Regions from separate parts of the Homo sapiens genome. Here regions 2 and 3 are each linked to region 1. The links come from fine-mapping of genetic effects on gene expression. A gene starts in region 1. Each other region holds a variant in brackets. All regions are shown on one strand. Distances are between the middles of the regions. Region 1 holds the start of SIRPB2 (signal regulatory protein beta 2). Region 2 has its middle 35 kb from the start of NSFL1C. Region 3 holds the start of NSFL1C (NSFL1 cofactor).

Region 1 (2,760 bases):
CTTGTTCAAAAACTATTGAGCAACACAGCAGAACATTAAACCAAGCATGGGGCCCTTCTAAGCAGGAGGCTCTGTGCCACTATATAGAGGGCACACCCAAGAACCAGCCCTGACTCAGCTTGAGATGCAGCTGGACTCAAACATTCCAACTGACTGGTTTAAGCAACTTCTCTTATTTTCCATCTATTCTATTGCAACAATCATTGGGAATATTTTTTATTCTGAGTAGTTTAGATTTCTGATTTCCTAGTCTAGTGCCTAAAACATAGCAGACACTCAAAAGTACCTGTGGAATGAGACCTAGCAATTATGATTCACATCTTAGAATTGAGGAAATCAGCTTAGAGAATTGAAGTGGTGTCTTGAGTCATACGGCCAATGAGTAAGGGAGCACCTAGGTCCGACCCCACACCTGGGTTCTGCCAGGATCTCTCCTGGGGATGGCCACCCCGGAGGACCAAAGATGTCATGGACAGAATCTAGATCTCAGTAGAGCCTGGAGCAGAGGCCCAGATGGGCAGGAGATGGAATGAGCCCACTGAGAGCCAAGTATCCCTGCCTGGTAGATCAGAGAGTTCTGGACTCAGAGGCTGAGCTATATATTCAGGGGTCTCAAGACTCTGGAGCTAACCTGGCCTGCCCCTGAGTTAGAGGAAACATGGGAATGATAATAATAATCGCCAAGAGTTATCAAATCTTTGTTATGCCAGGCACTTATGGGTATTATCTTGTTAAATTCTCCTAAGAAAGTCCCAAGGTGGGTCCTATTTTTAGCTCCATTTTACAGTTGGAAAAACTGAGGCTCAGAAAGAAATTACTTAAACTGGTTAGTGGTGAGGTTTGAGCCTACTGCGTCTTAAGCTGAGCCAGGGCTGGTTCATGGCTGTGCCATCTATGTAGTCGCACAGGGCCCTGTGCTTAGAAGGAGCCCATGCTTGGTTTACTGCTCTGCTGTGTTGCTCAATACTTTTTGAACAAAAGACCGCAGTTTTCATTTTGCAGTGGGTCTCATAAACTATGCAGCCGGCCCAGGGCTGAGCCTCACCACTTTTCTATTTAATACTCACAGTAGCCCTAGAGAAAGGTCCCATGAGCGTCCCTGTTTTGTAGAAGAGGCTCCTGGGGCTAAAAGAGCTGCAGCATCTGACGTGGGCATAGGAGCAATCAAGCTGGAAGCCAGTGGGTGTGAGCGCAGAGCCTGGGAGCTTATCACTTCACTACGCTGCTTCTTGGGACACTGGGGGTGCCCTCTGCCGGAGTCAGGCAAATTTTCAGTGGACCCCTCTTTACTCTATCTTCATGGGGTCAAGCTTCTTCAGGCATGGCAGAGCACTTAGTGCCCCTCTAGGGACTGACCAGCCGGGGGTGGACCCTGTTCTATCCTAGACCCCACTTACCTGAGGGGACAAGGACCAGTGCCAGCAGCAGGAAGCAGGGAGGCAAGTGGGCCAGGCAGGTGGGGGCCGACATCGTGGAGCACATGGCATCTTCTGTGGTCCCCAAGACTTGGGGCTCCTCTGCTCTCTTGTGAGTGTTGGAGTCTGAGGCGGGGCCCGTGGACAAGGCAGTTTCTGCGTCTCTTGGCCACAGCTGCTTGGGGAAGTGTTTTCATTGCAGCAACACAAGGCTGTTGGTGCAATAGGAAGGAGCCCGGTCAAAGGGTTTCCTGCTTTTGTGTCTGGGCTGTGATTCCTGTAGTCACTGTGCTAAAACCTTGCCATAGGCTCCATCCTAGGTGCCCGGGAGGGAGGTGGGCACTGAGGTCATAGGACGCACTCCAGAATCGGGTGGAATTTGGAGCAAACATTGGATCTTCCTCTTCTTGGCTGTGCAAGATTTCAAAGTCACTTCCCATTTCTGAGCCTTTTGTTTCTTCATCTGCAGCGTAGGAACAACGGCAGTTCCCTCCTCAGAACAGTTTTGGTAAGATTATGAGAAATAATGTGAGGGCACAGAACAATGTAAATGCTAAACATATTAACCATTATTATTCATGATGTGCAGAAAGTAGAGGAGGTGACATTGCTTAAGAAGAAGGATTTATTATAAAGCAAGCCCCATGGGGGCCTCCTTTTAGCACTGCAGGGAGGGTACAGGCCTAATTCCTAAAAGTATAATCATGTGTAACTCTCTCAGCCTCTGTTTCCTGGGGTCCAAGTGAAACATACTCAGATTGTGCAAACATTTGCGTTTGTGGCATCTTTGTTTCCTGTAAGTGATCTGAACTTCCTCAGGAGCCTCCTGGTGCTGGCTATCAAGAAGGAAAAGCTTAATCTTGCCAATTCATGCAATCCAGGCAATCTCTTTAGCCACACTGTCTGGGTTCAAATCTTGGCTTTACTCAGTCTGGCTGTGTGACCTTAGGACAATCATTTGACCACTTTATGCCTCGGTTTCCTCATCTGTAAAACAGGAATAAAAATGTGGTAGCATGTGTGGGGTGGAGTAAGCACTCTATAGGCTTTCACCATTGTCTTTTAGGTTAACTCAGTCTTTTAATTAACTCAGGGAAAAGTACAAGAACAACTCAGCCTTTCATTATTTCACTTCCTCCCTCATGCTTCAGAAGGTTCTGGGTGCAGAGGAAGCTGAAGATTCTCCAGCAACAGGGTGGCAGGCCTTGGATCTGAGTATGTCCCCTGGGTCCCAGAGGTCTGGTGTCTACTATGAGGAGGTTAGTCTGGCCTGGTCCCCAAGGACTTTGCACTGGGTCTGTGACTGGTCTTTTCTAGACTTTTGAGGCCTTGCATTGATACCCCT
Region 2 (2,760 bases), 59 kb before region 1:
TATCAAGTGATATTTATAAAATGTTTTTGTTGCTGTTATGGGAACATCCATATCCTTAGAAGCCAATAAAAAAGAGGATTCTAAATGCTAGGTGGTTGGCTAAATGTTCCTGATTTATACTGAGTGTAAAACAAAATAAAACAAAACATAAGGTATATGTGTTAAGTAGTGACATCTACATAGTTCCAAAGCACTGGCAACTATTAAAATATCATCCAGCTAAAACAAACTTTTCACAATTTTTTTTAACAGAAAAATAATAAACCAACAACAAAAACTGGTAAATGTTCTGGGTCTTGTGAGCAGACCAAAATGTTACTACAGTGTTCTCTATTGTGTGATCCCAGTGTACAAGTTTCTATTTCTCCATATCCTTATCAACATTTGCTATTTTCCATGTTTTTGATTATAGTTATCCTAGCGGGTGTGAAGTGGTTTATCTCTTGCAGGTGTTAAGTGGTATCCCACTGTGGTTTTCATTTGCATTTCTTTAGTAACAAATGATGCTGAACATGCTTTCATGTGCTTATTGGCCATTTGTATGTCTTCTCTGGAGATATGTCTATTCAGGTTCTTTGCCTATTTCTTAATTTTTTTTTTTTTTTTTGTGGTTGAGTTTTAAGTGTTCTTTATATATTCTGGATACAAGTCCATTATTTGCAAATACTTTCTCTCATTTTGTGGGCTGTGTTTCTACTTTCTAGATAATATATTTTATTGTGCAAATGGTTTTACTTTTTATGAAGTCTAATTTATCCATTTCTTCCTTTTGTTGCTCATGCTTTTGGTGTCAAATCTAAGAATCCATTGCCAAGTCTGAGGTTATAAATATTTACTCCTATGTTTTTCTCTAAATAGTTTACCCCTATGTTTTCCTCTTGTATTTGGGTCATTGATCCATTTTGAGTTAATTTTTGTGTATGGAGTGAGGTACGGGTCCAGCTTCATTCTTTTGCCTGTGATTATGCAGTTGCCCCGGCACTGTTTGTTGAAGAGACTATTCTTTCCCCATTGAGTTGTGCTGAACACTTATTGAAAATCAATTAGCCATAGATATTTATTTCTAGGCTGTCAATTATATTCCACTGGTGTATATGTCTGTCCTTATGTCAGTACCACACTGGTTTGATTATAGAAGTTTGGAGCATGTTTGGAAATCTGGAAGCATGAGCCCTGAAACTTTGTGTTTCTTTTTCTTTCTTTTTTGGTGTGTTTCTTTTTCAATAGTATTTTGACTACTTGGGGTTCATTCCAGTTCCACATAAATTTGAGGATTAGTTTTTCTATTTCCTTAGGAAATGCCATTGGAATTTT[G/C]ATAGGGGTTGCATTGAATCTGTGGATCATTTGCAATTAATATTCCAATACATCAACATGTGTTGTCTTCCATTTATTTAGGTCTTCTTTAATTTCTTTCAGCAATGTTTTGTAGTTTTCAGCATAGAAGTCTTTCTCCTTGGTTTAAGTATTTTACTCTTTTGGATGCTGTTATAAATGGAATTGTTACTTAATTTCATTTTCAGACTGTTCATTGCTGATGCATAGAAAATGGACTTTCGTGCACTGATCTTGCAATCTGCAACTATGTTGAATTTGTTTATTGGCTCTAGTAGTTGTGTGCATTTTGGTATTGTTATATTTTCTATACATAGAATTATTTCATCTTCAAATAGAGATAACTTTACTGCTTCCTTTCCAGTTTGGAGGCTGTTTATTGCTTTTTCTTGCCTAACTGCTCTGGCTAGGACTTCCAGTACAATATTTAATAGTAGTGGTAAAAATGGGCATTCTTGTCTTGTTCCTGCTCAGTGGGGAAGCTTCTGCTCTTTTACCATTGAGTATAATGTGAGTTGTGGGTTTTGTGTAAGTGACCTTTATCATGTTAAGGAAGTTCTCTGTATTCTGATTTGTTGGTGAGTGTTTGTATCCTGAAAGTGTTTGAAGTGTTGAATTTTGTTGCATGCATTTAATGTATCTATTGTGATATCATTTCCCTCTTTACAGAGTTGTGTTACATTGATGGATTTTTTTTTTTCTTATGTTGAGCCACCCTTGCATTTCTGGGAGAAATCCCACTTGGTCATGATCTATAATCCTTTGAATGTGCTACTGGATTTGGTTTGCTATTTTGTTGAGGATTTTTTGAGTCTATATTCATAAGATATACCGGACAGTCGTTTTGTCTGCCTTTGATATCAAGGTAACGGTGGACTCATAGAATCATACCTTTGATATCAAGGTAACGGTGGACTCATAGATATTCTGCATTTATATTTTTGTAATCACAATTTGTAAAGAATTCTCAAAATCCAACAGTAAGAAAACAAATAATCCAATAAACAAAAAGGCAAGGACTCTTTTTTTTTTTTTTTTTGGAGACGGAGTCTTGCACTCTCACCTAGGCTGGAGTGCAGTGGCACCATCTCGCCTCACTGCAAGCTCCGCCTCCTGGGTTCACGCCATTCTCCTGCCTCAGCCCTCCAAGTAGCTGGGACTACAGGCACCCGCCACCACGCCCGGCTAATTTTTTGTATTTTTAGTAGAGACGGGTTTTCACCATGTTAGCCAGGATGGTCTCGATCTCCTGACCTTGTGATCTGCCCACCTCAGCTTCCCAAAGTGCTGGGATTACAGGCATGAGCCACCATGCCTGGCCGGCAAGGACTCTTAAAAATGCTTTATCAAAAAGGATTTATGGGTGGCAAATGGCATATGAAAAGATGTTCAGCATCATTAGCATCACAAGACATGCTAATGTCAAAA
Region 3 (2,760 bases), 24 kb before region 1:
TTGTGTCTAGGTGTGATCTAGGTGTGATGCTTTACCGAATTCTTATGTTTGGGGAGTAATTTACGTTTGGCAGCAGACTCAGTTCAAATTCCAACCCCGCTACTTACTGGCTATGTGACCCTGAGCAAATTCTTTGCCCTCTGTGCTTCCAATTCCTCATCCATAAAATGGGTCTAGTCTTTACCTCATAGTGTTGCTAGGATCCAACGAATCATATTATGTAAAGTGCTTGGCACATGGTGGTTTAAAGCTTGGGCTCTGTCTGCTTGCAATCAGACAGAACTGGGTTCCACTTCTACCTCTTCTGCCTGGTAGCTAGTGAGGCCTTGAGCAAGTTACTTAACCTCTTTAATCTCAGCTGCAAAATGCGAAGGTTAAATGACAAAAGACATGTAAAGCAGTCAGAACAGCGCTTGGCTCATGGTAGGTACTCAATAAATATTAGTCATCACCGTCATCATCTACCTAAGACGAAGCTGGCCAAGAATATTTATGCAATTCTTTCTACAGTTAATTACCGAATGCTTATTATGTGCCAGGCATTGTTCCAGGCACTGGGAATTCATCAGTGTACAAAAATCCCTGCCTCGTGAAGCTTAAGTCTTCTTAGCAAGTATTTAGTGAATACTCAGTACGTGCCAATGAACTACACAGCAATTTCCACGAGACTCCCATTTTACAGATAAGTTAACTACGCAAGGTGAAGAAGCTCCAACCTTGCGCCACCACCCCAGAGGTATTCTCCCAGCAATTAGGAAGGCTGGGCGGCGGTCAACTCCCGGGCTGGACTTCGGAAGTGGAAATGAGCGGCCACCTAGTCCCGAGTGGGGCTTCACCCAAGAGCTGCTCACTCGGACCAGCCCGGCCTCCAGCAGATACTCGGCGCGGCAGCCACGCCCCCAGGCGCTCCCTCTCCTCGCCGGCTGCCGCAGCGCCCGAAGTCTCGCTGACGCCGCAAGCGGGCGAGGCAGGGTGAAACTGGCACGGCAGAACTGGCTGGGGCTGGCCCGCGTTCCCCCACTCCCAAGCCGAGCAGGCGACGCGTGACAAGCGGTCCCGGGACCATGAGGCCTGGGTCGGGCCGCGGTAGAGCGGGGATGACTGTGCGCTTCGGCCGCCGCGGGCTTAAGGCACCAGGCGCCCGCTCCCAGCAGTCCCCGGCCCACCCGACACAGCCCGCCGCGCGGCGCTACCTGCAAGTCCCAGCCGGCCGACTCGAGAAAGAAGCGGGCCCGGTCCTCCTCGGCGCCCGTCACCGCCACGAACTCCCTCAGCGCCTCCTGTCGCTCCGCCGCCATCTTCGCCCCGTGCGCCTTCCAAAGCGCTCCGGCGGCCGCCGCACAGGCCCAGCCCCGCTGCCGCGTTCCGCTTGCCGGTCGACGAGGCCCAGCCGATGAGGGCCCAGCAGCTGGGAGCCCGCCCGCAGCCCCGCCCCACGCGGTGCCTCACGCAAAGCCCTCCGTGCGGGAAGCCCCGCCGCTCCGCGCCCTCTGGCGAC[C/T]GCGGCGCGAACCGCAGCCTAACGGCGGGGGTGGGAGCCCGAAGGATGAGAGGCGGGGCGGGTCTTACATACACCTGTGGGCTGAAGGCTCCCTGCAGGAGTCAGATTCCCAGTTATTCATTGACGCAGCCCTCATTTCATTAATTGTGCATTCGTTCATTCACTTACTTGTCAAGCATTTACTGAGAGCTATCAATGGCCCGACGTTTTTCTAGGGCTGTGGATATGGCAGGGAGCAAAACAAAGTCCCTGCTCCCATGCTTCTTACATTCTAGGGGTAAAAATTCAGACCTTGAACAGGCTAGGCCTCCGCTCACAACACGTCCATGCCTCGTTATCTCGCCCCGCATAAAAGACAGTCTCATGGCCTGCCTGCAGGACCCATGAGAGATGGGCCAGTTCCTCCCTCTCATCAAGGGATCCGCTAGCTTCCTCTGCTCCAGGCGCCTTGCCCTCCTTGCTGTTCCTGGAACTTGCCAGTTATCTTGCATTTGCCTCAGGGCCGTTGCATTAGCTGCTTCTGTGCCTGGAGCACCTTTCCCTTACCGATGGGCAAGGCGCTCTCCCCGCTTTCTTTGGGCCTCTGCTCCAAGGCCACTTTCTTAGGCACAATCCTGTCTTCTGGGTCCTCAGCTTCTTTGCCCTCTTGCCTCTCCAAAGAGGAACTTACTTGTTCAGCTTACTTGTTCTTTGTTCTCTATTTTCAAAGCCTAACTTCCTTGTTCTTTGTACCTCCTTACCCCTAGTTACGGTAAACAACCTTCCCGCGGGTCCTAATCTATAACTCACATCTGTTCCCTTGGATACCCTCGCTACAATTGCCATTCCCGCGGAAACTCTTCTTCCTGCCGAAACCGCTTGCCCTACCACTGTAGCCCACATTTCTGCTCCATTTGAACTAGCCAATCGGGATTAGCTTAGATTGCGCAGTCCAGCCCCAGCCAATGGGAACAGGACACAGAAGCAGCGACTAACCGCATTAGGGATAAAAACCCCTTCTCTCTTTTGTTCGGTGTGCTTTCCTGAAGACCAGATGTGTGAGTGGCACCCTTCTGCAGAAGTAAATTGGCTTTGCTGAAAAATCTTTTATTTCAGTGCTGGTTTTCCTTGAGACTTCGAGCTTTAATTTCCAACACCACCGTGGGACACTCTTCCCTTCCTCTTCCTCTGTCGGCCCCTGCTCATTCTTCAGCTCTCAGTTCAGGTGTCCCTTTCTCAAGGAGACCTTGAGAAGGTGCCCAGGCTTAGTCAAAACCCCTCTT

The links. PIP is the estimated chance that this variant, and not a neighbour inherited with it, causes the effect.
Region 2: its variant is fine-mapped to the expression of SIRPB2 in whole blood (INTERVAL, PIP above 0.99).
Region 3: its variant is fine-mapped to the expression of SIRPB2 in whole blood (INTERVAL, PIP above 0.99).

What each region holds. Positions count from the first base shown.
Region 1 is chr20:1,489,878-1,492,637 of GRCh38, forward strand. It overlaps SIRPB2 (signal regulatory protein beta 2), which reads right to left and starts at 1,543. Exons shown (of 5, transcript NM_001122962.2): 1 at 1,398-1,543. The coding sequence starts at 1,482.
Region 2 is chr20:1,430,879-1,433,638 of GRCh38, forward strand. No RefSeq gene overlaps it. Among named protein-coding and RNA genes, the nearest start is that of NSFL1C, 35 kb to the right of the region's middle. The variant G/C (reference allele first, on the strand shown) is at 1,315.
Region 3 is chr20:1,465,527-1,468,286 of GRCh38, forward strand. It overlaps NSFL1C (NSFL1 cofactor), which reads right to left and starts at 1,323. Exons shown (of 9, transcript NM_016143.5): 1 at 1,194-1,323. The coding sequence starts at 1,298. RefSeq lists an enhancer at 552-1,053 and a silencer at 1,348-1,617. The variant C/T (reference allele first, on the strand shown) is at 1,499.